Regions from separate parts of the Homo sapiens genome. Here all the other regions are linked to region 2. The links come from fine-mapping of genetic effects on gene expression. A gene starts in region 2. Each other region holds a variant in brackets. All regions are shown on one strand. Distances are from middle to middle.

Region 1 (4,247 bases), 36 kb after region 2:
AACAGGGATTTATGAGGATGTACTCTCCTTTCCACATATGTTATAAGATATACATTCACTGGGTCCAAAGGGCAGATTGAACATGTGCTCAAGCCTCCTTCTCCCTCTCTTGGTCCCCAGATATAACATACAGTTCTAGAAAATAAAGGGGTCTAGAAATTATTAGGAAATCCTGAAGAAAGAGATAAAGAAAATCAGTGGTCTAGAAATTATTAGGAAATCCTGAAGGAAGAGAAACCTAGAGTCAAAAGCATAGCTCCAAACACATTCCAGGTGGAAGAGGACTCATAGTTACTCCAAGCTGGGTGGTGGTAAATAAGATTGTCAGGTAAGGGCCCTGAAGTGCATATCAGGGGTTTGACTAGAGACCTATAGCAGTTCCGATCTGAAGTTTTCACCGTCTTTCAACAATCAGTTATGCCAAGCAGTGACCAGAAGAGGCAACTACTCCACTACCATCTTTGGAGCCAGAGTGCAGTAAACAAATGCAGCACTTATAGAAAGGCTCCGTGACAGACTCTCTAGTCATGATGATCCCATGGTCAAGAATCACCAAAAGTTGGGGAAATCTAATTTAATGATGAATATCAATATTAATACAATGAAAACTCCAAACAAAACCAAAGCAAATACAAACATACCATGAAGTTACTAGAAATGACAAATTAAGACTTTAACAAAAGTTTATAACTAGTAAAGATATGGAGCAATATTATATCTATAGAAAAGAAACAGATGTAGAGATTGGAAATTCAAAATCTGGCCCTTGAAATTTAAGAATGCATCTGATGCTCTGAGCAGCAGAATAAACATAAAAGTTCATTCACTGAAGAGTTATAAATTGAATTGAGACATTTTCTGTACTCAGGAAAAGAGAACAATGTGATTGAAAATGCAGAAGAAAACCAACGTCCAACCATTCTAAATAAACCTGTTAGAATTCCAAAAGAACATAAAGAGCATGGATGGAATAAAATATTCAAAGAAACAATAAAAATTATTTTACAGTGCTAAGGAAAATAAATAGATTATAAAATTGAAAGTAATGTTTGGATGCCAAAAAGATGAATGAAAAGAAGACCCACATCTAAGCCAAAATGTAGAAACAACTCAAATGTCCATAAACAGATGAATGGATAAACAAAATATATTTATGTACACTCAATAAAATAGTATTTCTCCATTAAAGTGAATGAAGTACTGATGCATTCTACATTGTGGATAAACCTTCCAAGCCTTATGATAAGTGAAAGAAGCCAGTCACAAAAGGCCATACATATTGTATGATTCAATGTACATGAAATACCTAAAACAGGTAAATTTATAGACACAGAAAATTGGTAGTTTTCAGGTATAGGATGTGGAAGGAATGGGGACAGATGTTTTAATGGGTAAGGGGATTTCTTTTAGGGTGTTGAAATGTTTTAAAACTAAATGGAGGGTATGGTTGCACAATATAGTATGCTAAGTACCATTGAACTATGCACTTTTAAAAGATTAATTTTATGTTATGTGAATTTCACCTTTAAAAAAAGAAAAAGCAACAGGGGAAGAGAGGCGAATACTTTGTCTCGTCTCTGAGAGACACTTGGGAATGCTTGCGGAACTGTTCCTGGAGAGTGAAAACAAAAAAAACAAACCCACACCTCGATATATTGTAAGTGGAAATTTAGAACTTCACATGTGAAGAGAAAATTCTAGAAGTTTCTGGAGAGAAAAGCAGACAACTTACAAAGGAGCAAGAATGATTGATAACCAGGCTGGGTGC[A/G]GTGGCTCACACCTGTAATCCCAGAACTTTGAGAGGCTGAGGTGGGCAGATCACTTGAGGCCAGGGGTTTGAGACCAGCCTGGCCAACAGGGCAAAACCCTGTCTCTACTGAAAACACAAACATTAGCCAGACGTGGTGGTACAGGGCTGTAATCCCAGCTATTTGGGAGGCTGAGGCATGAAAATCTCTTGAACCCAGGAGGCTGAGGTTGCAGTGAGCCGAGATCGCACCACTGCAGTTCAGCCTGGGAAACGGGGTGATAATCTGTCTCAAAAAATAAAAAAGAAAGACTGATTACATACTCCTCATTAAAAACACTGAGTTCAAGAAAACATTTAAACAATATCTTCAAAGTGTTGAGAAAAAAAAATCTGAGCCTTGAATTTTATGTCTAGACCACTATCATTCATGTGAATGGCAGAATAAAGATAGATGTAGACATTCCTGGACTTAGGATATTTGTTACCCATAATCCTATCTGAAAAGCTTATTAAAGTTATATTTCACCAAAATATTTAAAAATCTTCGATGTGTTTTATCAGGAGCATGATAAGCAAAGAAACTGATAAAACTTTTTATAAAAATAATAAATAGTCTTTGGTTTCAGCACCAACAGGTAGAGTGTGGAAGTCATCACTCCTGTCCTTAGAACAATAAAAGCTGAACAAACTAAAAATCAACGCATGTTTGGTTCTACCAGAGAACCAGGGGCTCATGGCAAACCACCCCAAAATCTGGAGAGACAGGTGCATCCAGAGAGATCGAGCTGAGATCTGTTCACCTGGAAAAGAAGCTGCTGGAGCCATAGACTGGTGGAACCATTAAATGGTAAATTTGATAAGTTGTTGAAGGCTGACTGTGAACTAGCATGAGTAAGAAACTATTAGGGACCCCAATCTTAGGGGTTTCCTAAAAGTTTGTGGGTTTTGCTTCCAGGAATATTATCAGATTCTCATCATGAGGATCTGGGAAAGATCCCCTTAGGGTTCTGGCGGTGGAGACAGGGGTAGGGGAGAGTAAGTATTGAGAAATGTGTCCAACTCCTCTCTCTAACAAAGACGTAGTCTCCATGTGAAAGTCTTTAGCAGAGAGCAATTCTGAAATCTGATCACAGCCAGAAACAGGGAATTCTTCCCACTCTAGTCCCTTCCAACCCTCTTGTTTCACCTAAGAGGGGAAAGACATCATCAACAGGAGTTAAGGCTTCAAGGAAATAGACTGGGAATGAGGCAGCCAGGGAAAGGAGTAGGAGACGAGAGAAAAAGTGGCATCACTGGCGAAACATCTGTGAAGGTCACTGCCCTGAGTCACAGACTGACTAAAAATCCAAGATCTAATTGGAAGATTATAGGAGGTTCCTTCTTCACCACACCTTACCATCACACTGACAAGTATAATAACAGTGGATTATAGCTGGAAAAGCTGCATGACACAGACTCTCTGAGGACTGCATAAAAAATGCCCAAGTCAACAGGGGAGCCAACAACAGAAACTCTAGAGGAATTAGAAACCTCTGACACCTATAGCTACAACAAATATTAAACATAATCTAACTCCTAGCCAGATTAACATAAATCCTCACACTACAGGCCATTTAGCTCAGTTTTTATTACCCAATACAATATGCCTGCCTTTCAACAAAATCATAAGGCATGCCAAAAGGCAAAACAAAACAAAACAAAACCAACCAATGAACAAAAACATTCTGAAGGGACAAAGCAGTCATCAGAATGCGACTCAGATATGACACAGATATAGAATTATCAGGCAAATGATTTAAAATAACTATAATTAATGTGCTAAAGGCACTAATGGAAAAATAAGATAGCAGACGAGAACAGATGAGTAATGTAAGCAGAGAGATATTCTAAGAAAGAATCAAATGTAAATGCTAGAAATCAAAAAGCAACAGAAATAATGAATGCCTCTGATGGGCTCATTAGTAGCGTGGACATAGCTGAGAACAGGATCAGTGAACTTGAACATAGATAATAGAAATTTTCTAAACTGAAATGCAAAGAGAATAAAGAATGAACCAAACAGATGAGAAAATCCAAACTATGTGACAATATCAAAAGGTGTAATGCCTATAGTTGGAATACCAGAAAGAAAGAATGGAGCAGAAGAAATACTTGCAAAAACCATGCTCAAGTGTTTCCCAAAATTAATGTTATACACCAAATCATGGATTGAGTAAGCTTAGAGAACACCAAGCAGGATTTAAAAAAAAGACAGACAAAATACACACACACACACACACACACACACACACACACACACACACACCCCTACCTACCCATAACCTACTCAAACTGCAGAATACCAAAGACAAAATCTTGGAAGAACAAATAAAATTATAGTCTTGAAAATTTTAAGATTATATCAATGTGTTAGTAGCTTGTGGTGAAAGGATGAAGGCAACTAAAAATTTGCATGTGTGTGTGTGTGTAGGAAGGCTGTATACACAGATTAGCTCTA
Region 2 (4,218 bases):
CCACATGATAACACTGCACTAGCAGCTTCCCTTATAAGGTGCTATATGGCAGAATCTTTTATATTCCCAAGTCACCCAGTAGTTTCTTTCTTTGCAACTCTATATACACAATTACTTGCCCAATATCTGCTTTCTCCATTAGACTATGGGTCCATGGTGAAAGGAATAGTGTCTATCTTGCTTTTCACACTGTCCTGATGCCTAGTGCCAGTGGAATGCCCATTATAAAGAAATAAATATCTGTGGTGCTTCTAGTTCCTACAGTGGCACCTTGGTTTTACAAAAGGGCATCTGGACTCTATGTGTAAATACAAAGTGTCCATTTGCAATCATTTTCAAAATAAAGTAAGTCTCAGAAGCTAAAGAAAGGGGAAGCAAAATTCTTCCTATATAAAGTATTTACTGTGTTCAAGACATATACGAAGTCTTATCTTCTGATAATGCTGTATCATCTAAAATTAGTATTATCTACATGTTTGTCTATCTTCCTGTACAGACCACATATAAAAATATTTTACTATTTAAATTTATGGATACTTCTAAATAGAAACATATATTATTTAGTGGAAACCCTGAAATTTAACTCATTGCTAGTATGTTTGTTATTAATTAAATCTTTGACAAAATAAAAAGGGCTAGGAAGAATAAAAATGTCCCCATATTAACGGCAGCATTATTTATACTAGCCCAAAACTAGGATGATTAAATCAATTGTGGTGTGTCCATACAATGGAATACCATACAGCAATGACAACGGACAAATTATTCTATATCCTACAGTAGAGATGAATCTCACAACAGAACTTTCAGTGAAAGAAGTCAAATGCAAAAAATTGAATAAGTTCCATTTATAGGAAGTTCAAATACAAGCAAAATTCATCTATGTTGTTCAAATCAGAATACTGATTGTTCTGGCCATAGACACAGTAGTGATGGAAGCTCTTGAGGTGCCGATAATATATTTCTTGATCTGTGTGCTAGCTCACAAGTGCTCACTTAGAAAAACTGCATTAGGCACTTACCACTTGCACAATTCTCTATGTGTTATATTTTAATAAAGGTTTACTTTTTTAAAAGCACTCCATAGTATCTCTAGCGATGAAGTTATACACACACACACATACATACATATATATTTTAACATACTTATGGGTAGATTCCTATCCAACTTACCTGTTCTTTAGTGTCTTTACTATTTATTTACTTATTTATGTTTCTGTATCCTAGGAACTAAGTAGAAGACTACCTAGCCTTCTATTCATTATTTGTGGGTTGGAGGTTGAAGTTCAAACATTTACTCAAACACATCCAAAACACATATGTGGCTTAAATATGGCTTTTCCTAGCCTTGCATAAATGTCTGATTCATATCTTGATGTACTCTACACTCTAGTGTCATAGAGAAAATAAGTCATTGGTCATAGAAAAACCTACATGCAAATCTTATTAACTTGATCAAAACCTAAGCTTAAAAAAAAAGCTAAGTCACAGAGATTCCTTTCTTTTCCAAATAACATTTTAAACACAATTTTTAGCCCTATTTAGTGAACTTCAATTCTTTAGATATGTTTTAGAACATAACATACTGCCAATATTCTCCACAGTATATTGAAGTTGAGAAGTGAAATAATTTTAACAATAAAATTTTATTAAAACATTACACAGTTAAGAAGTGTGTGTGTGAGAGATCTTTTCTCCTAATTATTCAAAATTTCACATAATATTTACATTAGAAAAATCTATCATGTCATATTCTAATTATAATGGTTTTAAGAAGACTAACGTCTTCTTCCAACTTACTCTGAATCTAAGGGACCACTTCTTTGCCACTAATAATAAAAGTTCAAGTTCATTAAGCAAAGATAGTATGGACTACATGAGGGCGTTAATATTCTGAGATGAAGACAGAAGGTTAATGACTAAAACTTTCAAACAAGTTTCTCTCTCTCTCTCTCTCTCCCTCTCTCTCGCTGTCTGTCTCTCTCTTGCTGTCTTCCATAAAGTCAGCAGGAACTTTGCAGCGTAAAAGGACACCCTAGGGGAAGCATGGCATAACTTGAAAGCGGTTTCCTGCTCCAGCCTAACCCCAAGCCTCTCCTGGGAGGGAGCGAGTGGAGCCTTCTCCCCGCCGGTCCGCTGGGAGGTTGGGAGACCAGGTGGCAGCAGCCTCCCCAGGCGCCGGGCACCCGTCGGCTGGCCCAGGGACTTACCACGAGCGCGCAGCACAGCAAGTTGTTCATTGTGGTCCCCGGAAACCTCAGGGGCTTGGAGGCGGCGGCTGGGCGAGCGCTCCGGTGCGTCTCCGCAGCCCGTGCGCTCATCACGTTATATATAGCGTCCCGGCAACAGGAAGTATCGCCTGCCTTTGATCAGTCATTTTTCTATCCTGGACCAAACTTTGCACCTTTCTTTTTTAGGAAGCTTGGGCGGGAGCGGTCGGGGGGTGTGCAGAAAGCTCCAGGGTTAACGCTTTCAGGGCTGGGGCGGAAAGGATCCCCCAGGGAGGTGGGGCGTGAGGGGTGGGGCGGTGGTGTCTGGCCCCTGGGAGAGCAGGGGAAAAAAAAGCCACCGGGCTGAGGAACAAGGCGGCTGCTGTCTCCGCGGGGCTCTGAGGTTTCCCGGCCCCTTCCCGCCAGCGGCCAGCCTCCTGGCAGCCGGGACCAGCGGTGGGAGGGCTGGGCACACGCTGGGCAGCTGCTGTGCTTGTGTCTCCTCCACCCTGAGAGTCCGATCCAGCCAAGATCCGGACGCAGTTGGAGTGTGTCCCAGACCTTTGTCCTCTCGCTGGGCGAAAGCTGTGAGTTTCCGCCGTACCCGGCTGCCTGACCCCTTCACTTCGGGTTCTGAAACCTCAAATTACAGGGCCCCTCTTTATGCATGGCATTGTCTGAGCCCTTTTCGGGGAGTTCGCAATCATTCATCTTCAAGTTTACATAAACCATGTAGTAGGAATTTTTCTAACTAATGTCTGATTGGCCCTAAAGCCCGTGCTATTCTGCATTCACTCCTTGTTATCTGGGGTAGTTAGAGCCAGAGAGAATCTGCAGAGTGAAAATTGGACTGCCTGGGGCAGGGATAACCTTGCGGAGCACTGTTCCCTTCACCAACCCCACCATCATCAAAGGGCTATTGGTATCGGAGCTTCCTACGCGCTGAACTTCTGGAGTAGCCTCCTCGAGGTCTTTCCACTAGCCTCAAGCTATCGACAGAAGTTTGGCACTTTGCTCTAGGGTTCGCTGTCTCCCCCATTAATTCCCTGGTCTAGAAGTTAGACTTGATGACTTGTAAAGTGTGGTCCCATTCATGGATTACAGTTCGCGGGTTGCCACTGAAATTGTTTACAGATGGCTGAAAAAGTCCCTGCAGAGCTGCTTCCCCATCAGGGCCAAGTGTTCAAGTTATATGTCTCCAGAGAAGGGCAAATACTGCCTTTCACCAGATTCAAGGGAAGGAAGGTGAAGAATCAGGAGAGGGGACCCCTGGGGAGCAAGGATGGCTTACCAGGATCAGAGCATCTGCCCCTTCCAAGGGACATCCTTCCACCACGAGTTCAAAGTGGATCCACAGACTGTTCCATCCTGCAAATTACAGAAGACGGGGTGTCATTCAGCTTTGTCCCTCAAGGGCCAGAATGTAACAGCATGCTGGTTTCTTAAGTGAACTAGTGAATAAATGTAGCTCAGTGAGTGTGGACAAAATTGTATGACTCCAAATCACTCCTTGTATTTTGAATCGTAGTTTTGACATCTGCAACCTGAGATATCAACACTTAGACTTGCCATGGGACTCAAGTCAATCCAAGTGTTAGTAGTGAAACACAATATAAATAGCAGTATTATTGTTTTTGTTAGAGTAATGTTTGTCTAGGATATTATTTGAAGGTGTTTTTCTCAGAACATAAAATGATGCCAATATGTGGGTGTCAGACCTTGGAGAAAACTAATCAATAACTGAGTCCTTCAGTGTTAACCCTGGGAAAGGTTTACGTCTCCCTGAGCCTCATCTATAAGATAAAAACACACTGATATTGCAGAAACGTAAGAGAAAGCAAATGGGAGCGTTTAAAAAACAATTATATAAATGATGGTAATCACTAATTATGAGCATTAAATAAAGTAATGCATGTAAAATAACTCAGCACAATGCCTGGCCCATAGGAAATATTTCCTATAGTTATGATTATTCTAGGGGAATACCTAAGATACTGGCCTTTGTAAC
Region 3 (4,247 bases), 47 kb after region 2:
TCTTGATTTAAATCATTTTGGATAAATACCTAGAACTAGGATCATTGGATCATATGATAGTTCTATTTTTAATTTTTTGAGGAACGCTCGTTCTGCTTTTTACAGTGGCTACATCATTTTACATTCTCACCAACAGTATATAAGAGTTTTAATTTCTCTGCATCTTTGCCAACACTTGTCTTTTTTTAAAAAATAAGAGCTATTCTAAAAGGTGTGAGGTGATATCTCATTGTGGTTCCGGTTTACATTTATTTGATTATTAGTGACGTTGGGCATCTTTTCATATACCTGTTGGCCATCTATCTGTATGCTTTCTGTGCTAGTCTATTTGTGTTACCACAGTGAAATACCTGGAACTGGGTAATTTATGAGAAAAGAGGTTTAATCGGCTCATGGTTCTCCAGGCTGTACAGAAAACATGGCACCAGCATCTGCTCAGCTTCTAGTGAGGCTTCAGGGAGCTTTGGTTCATGGTAGTAGGTAAAGTGGGAGCAGGCGTGTCATGACAAGAGCAGAGCAAGAGAAAGAGTAAGGATTGGGGGAGGTACCACACTCTAAAACAATCAGCTCTCACGTGAACTATCAGAGTGAGAACTCACTCATTACCACAGGGGTGGCATCAAGCCATTCATGCGGGATCCACCCCCATGACAAACGCCTCTTTCCAGGCCTACCTCCCACACTGGAGATCACATTTCAACATGAGATTTGAAGAAGACACACATCCAAACCATATCACCTTCTTTGGATATATTTCTATTTAAATCCTTTGCCCATTTTAAAATCAGATTTTTGTTTTCCTCAGCTTTTGTTTTGTTTTGCTATTGAATCACATGAGTTCCTTATATACATTTAATAATAACCTCTTACCAAATATATGGTTTACAAATATTTCCTACAATTACTTAGGTCATATTTTCACTCTGTTGATTGTTTCGTTCCCTGTGCAGAGGCTGTTTAGTTTGATGTGGTTCCACTTGTCTATTCTTGCTTTTGTTACCTGTGCTTTTGATGTCATATCCAATAAATCATTTTCAAGACCAATGTTTTGAAGCTTTTCCCCTGTGTTTTTTCATAGAAGTTCTAAAGTTTCATATCTTACTTTTACATCTTTAATTCATTTTGAGTTTAGTTTTGTTCACAAATACTTAATAAGCACTTTAATCCTCATGCTGACCCTTGAATTACACTTTACTGTCCTCATTTTTCAATGAGAAACAGATTCAAAGTATTTATGCCTCAAGTGACATAGCAAAATTGTGATGAAAACAGAGTCTAGACCCAGCTGCAACTGATTCTGAAGGCTATTCTCTACTGACTGCCTTATAAAGAAATCTCTTTGTAGGCTGGTCTTTTGCTATAGCTCTTCCTCCATTATTGGTCATGTTTAATAACTGGTGAGTGTTTGGGTGTCTTCTGCATTACTAGAAATTCACAAGAGTTAAATGGCTGTGTTTCATGGCATGTAAAGTTATATACAGTAGATTAAGGCATGCACCTGGAGCTTCTCAGTTAGAGGGATGTTAAGGGAAATGTTTTAGAGAGCAGTAAAATAAAGGTATTAGTGTTAACAAGTGGAAACAACCTGTTCTATTTCATATGATAAAATAAATTCATCTTGTACTCCATTAAGGTGGCAGCATTGAAAAATAGCACTGGAATGTTCAACATATGATCAATCAAGACCTGGGTTTCAGGCACAAGTTTATCAAATTAAAGTGATGTGATTTTGAACAGCAAATTAACCTCAGTATTTTCATCTATAAAATAAAAATTATATTCTTTCTGCTAACTCGCAAGGTTGACTTAAAAATGAAATGAGAAAAAAATATAAAGATTTTATATTCCTCTAAAATTGGTGTGAATTTAGAAGAAAGAAGTTAAATTTGCCTTTTACCCATGACATATTTCCCAGAGACAGTAAATATTTCAATTATTCCCAATGTGGATAAACTTAAACTCTATGTATGAATTTAATAGGAAACATTCATTCTAAGCTTTTCTTCAATTGGCTCTATTCCTATCTAAAGTTGAGGAAATGGAGTTATTTGGGACATGTATGGTAGAGCCATGAAACCATCACCTTGACCAAATAAAAAGCATGATCACTTAGGCATTTTGCTGAGATAGCGCATGAATAGAAGTTCATAAAAGCCAAGTGATTTTTTACCATCTTGTGCATGTGATCTTGTGGTAAAAATTTAAGAACTTGGCCAGGCATGGTGGCTCACGCCTGTAATCCCAGCTCGTTTGGAGGCCGAGGCAGGTGGATCACGAGGTCAGGAGATCAAGACCATCCTGGCTAATATGGAGAAACCCCGTCTCTACTGAAAAATACAAAAAAAAAAAAAATTAGCCAGGCGTGGTGGCAGGCACCTGTAGTCCCATCTATTTGAGAGGCTGAGGCAGGAGAAGAGCGTGAACCCGGGAGGCAGAGGTTGCAGTGAGCCAAGATCGTGCCACTGCACTCCAGCCTGGGTGACAGAACGAGACTCCGTCTCAAAAAAAAAAAAAAAAAAAAAATTAACTTGGA[T/A]ATGCTTGACTTGATTTCATCATTCTAATTAATAGCCCATCGCTATTACAACTAAGATTTTTACTGTGTTAGCATTTATTGGATGCCCCCTATTCTCCAGGCACTGTGCTAAGTACTCTATGTATATTATCACCTAATTTTCATAAGAACCCCAGGCACAAAGTAATGTTACCAATAGAGACAAATAAATGTGTCCAAGGTCACACAGTATGAGATATGCAAGGTATAGCTAAGACTATTAAAAAGGTCACATTTATTTATTATAAATACATTCATTTATTTATTTGTTATTAATTTCTAATTACTAGGAAGAATGGTGTGTGAGTGACATTTGGAGCCATTAAAATGGATAAAATGGCCTTAGGAAAAGAGAAGCTAGTGAATGGGAAATGGCTGAGGACTAAGCCCTAGGATGTCCTAGAGTTAGAGGTCTGATAAAGAAGAGCAATCGCCTGTAATCCCAGCACTTTGGGAGGCTGAGGTGGATGGATCACCTGAGGTCAGGAGTTTGAGACCAGCCTGGTCAACATGGTGAAACCCCATCTCTACTGAAAATACAAAAATTAGCCAGGCATGGTCGTGGGTGCCTGTAATCCCAGCTACTCAGGAGGCTGAGGCAGGAGAATTGCTTGAACCCAGGAGGCGGAGGTTGCAGTGAGCCGAGATCATGCCACTGCACTCCAGCCTGGGCAACAGAGCAAGACTCCATCTCAATAAAAAAAAAAAAAGAGCCAGCAAAGGAGACTGAGAAAGAGTTTTCCTCAAGATGGAAAAAAGAAGCACATAAACATGGTCTCAAAAGCCTAGAAAATGAAGTTATTTAAGAGAAGGAAGTGGTCAGATTTGTTGAATCCTACTGAAATTTTGTGCAAGGTAGGACAAAATATTGACCATTTGCTTTGGGAAGATATAAAATGTTGGCAATGCTGATAAAAGTAATTTCAGTTAACAACAGTTCAATTACAGTGAGGTTAAGACAGAATAGAATGGCAGGAAGTGGAAGCAATGAATACAGAGAATTCTTTAAAGAGTTTTTTTGTAAAGAGAGCAGATATTGAAATGATAGCTGAAGAGGCATGGGGTATTTTTAAATGATAGGTGATATGAAGGCATATTTGTATGCAAATAGAAATGATCTCATAGAGAGGAAGAAAATAATAAATAATGTTGCAAAAAAGAAAGAGCATAGTGCTGATTTCCTAAAGCAGCAGTGAAGGGGATGGTCTTACATGAGAGCAGGACACCTATTCCATTATAACAGGGAGAAAGGCAGAGTGTGCAGATTCAGATAAAAGGAGGAGCCAGCATAGAAGATGAGGTCATTCTTTCCTGATTATTTTTCTGGGAACTATCTTGCAATGTTTTCAGCTGAGAGTGAGAGGGGAAGAAAAGTCGGACATCAGAAAAAGGTGGTACAGAGGAGAATGGGGAAATGAGTTTCCTAGAGAAGTGTGATAGGATTATATGGCATTGTGGAGTGCCAATTTGAGACTTGTAGTCATGACTTTGAAATGAAGTGCCCATCAGCACAGTTGTGTGCTTTTCTCCTACCATCCTGGAGCCTCTCAGATACAGGCACAGACCAAGTGCACAGAGGAGCTTAATCAGGCTTGAGTGTCACCAGGCAATAATGGCAGAGTGAGAGGGGAGAGAAGTAAAGTTAAGAGTGCTTGCAAGGGAGTGATTATACATCTGAACATGGAGTCTAAGCAGG

Alleles and levels. Positions count from the first base shown, and alleles are read on the strand shown. Sizes are in standard deviations (SD) of each study's normalised expression. Not every link is listed here.
In carriers of allele A in region 1, the expression in fetal neocortex of the gene that starts at base 2,304 in region 2 tends to be higher than with G alone (moderate effect, 0.54 SD a copy in Walker 2019).

The links. PIP is the estimated chance that this variant, and not a neighbour inherited with it, causes the effect.
Region 1: its variant is the best candidate, but not a certain one, in a credible set for the expression of TNFRSF11B in fetal neocortex (Walker 2019, PIP 0.55).
Region 3: its variant is the best candidate, but not a certain one, in a credible set for the expression of TNFRSF11B in lung (TOPMed, PIP 0.51).

The regions. Positions count from the first base shown.
Region 1 is chr8:118,985,524-118,989,770 of GRCh38, forward strand. It overlaps a transcript of COLEC10 not described here. Among named protein-coding and RNA genes, the nearest start is that of TNFRSF11B, 36 kb to the left of the region's middle. The variant A/G (reference allele first, on the strand shown) is at 1,769.
Region 2 is chr8:118,949,582-118,953,799 of GRCh38, forward strand. It overlaps TNFRSF11B (TNF receptor superfamily member 11b), which reads right to left and starts at 2,304. Exons shown (of 5, transcript NM_002546.4): 1 at 2,211-2,304. The coding sequence starts at 2,240. It also overlaps a transcript of COLEC10 not described here.
Region 3 is chr8:118,996,346-119,000,592 of GRCh38, forward strand. It overlaps a transcript of COLEC10 not described here. Among named protein-coding and RNA genes, the nearest start is that of TNFRSF11B, 47 kb to the left of the region's middle. The variant T/A (reference allele first, on the strand shown) is at 2,534.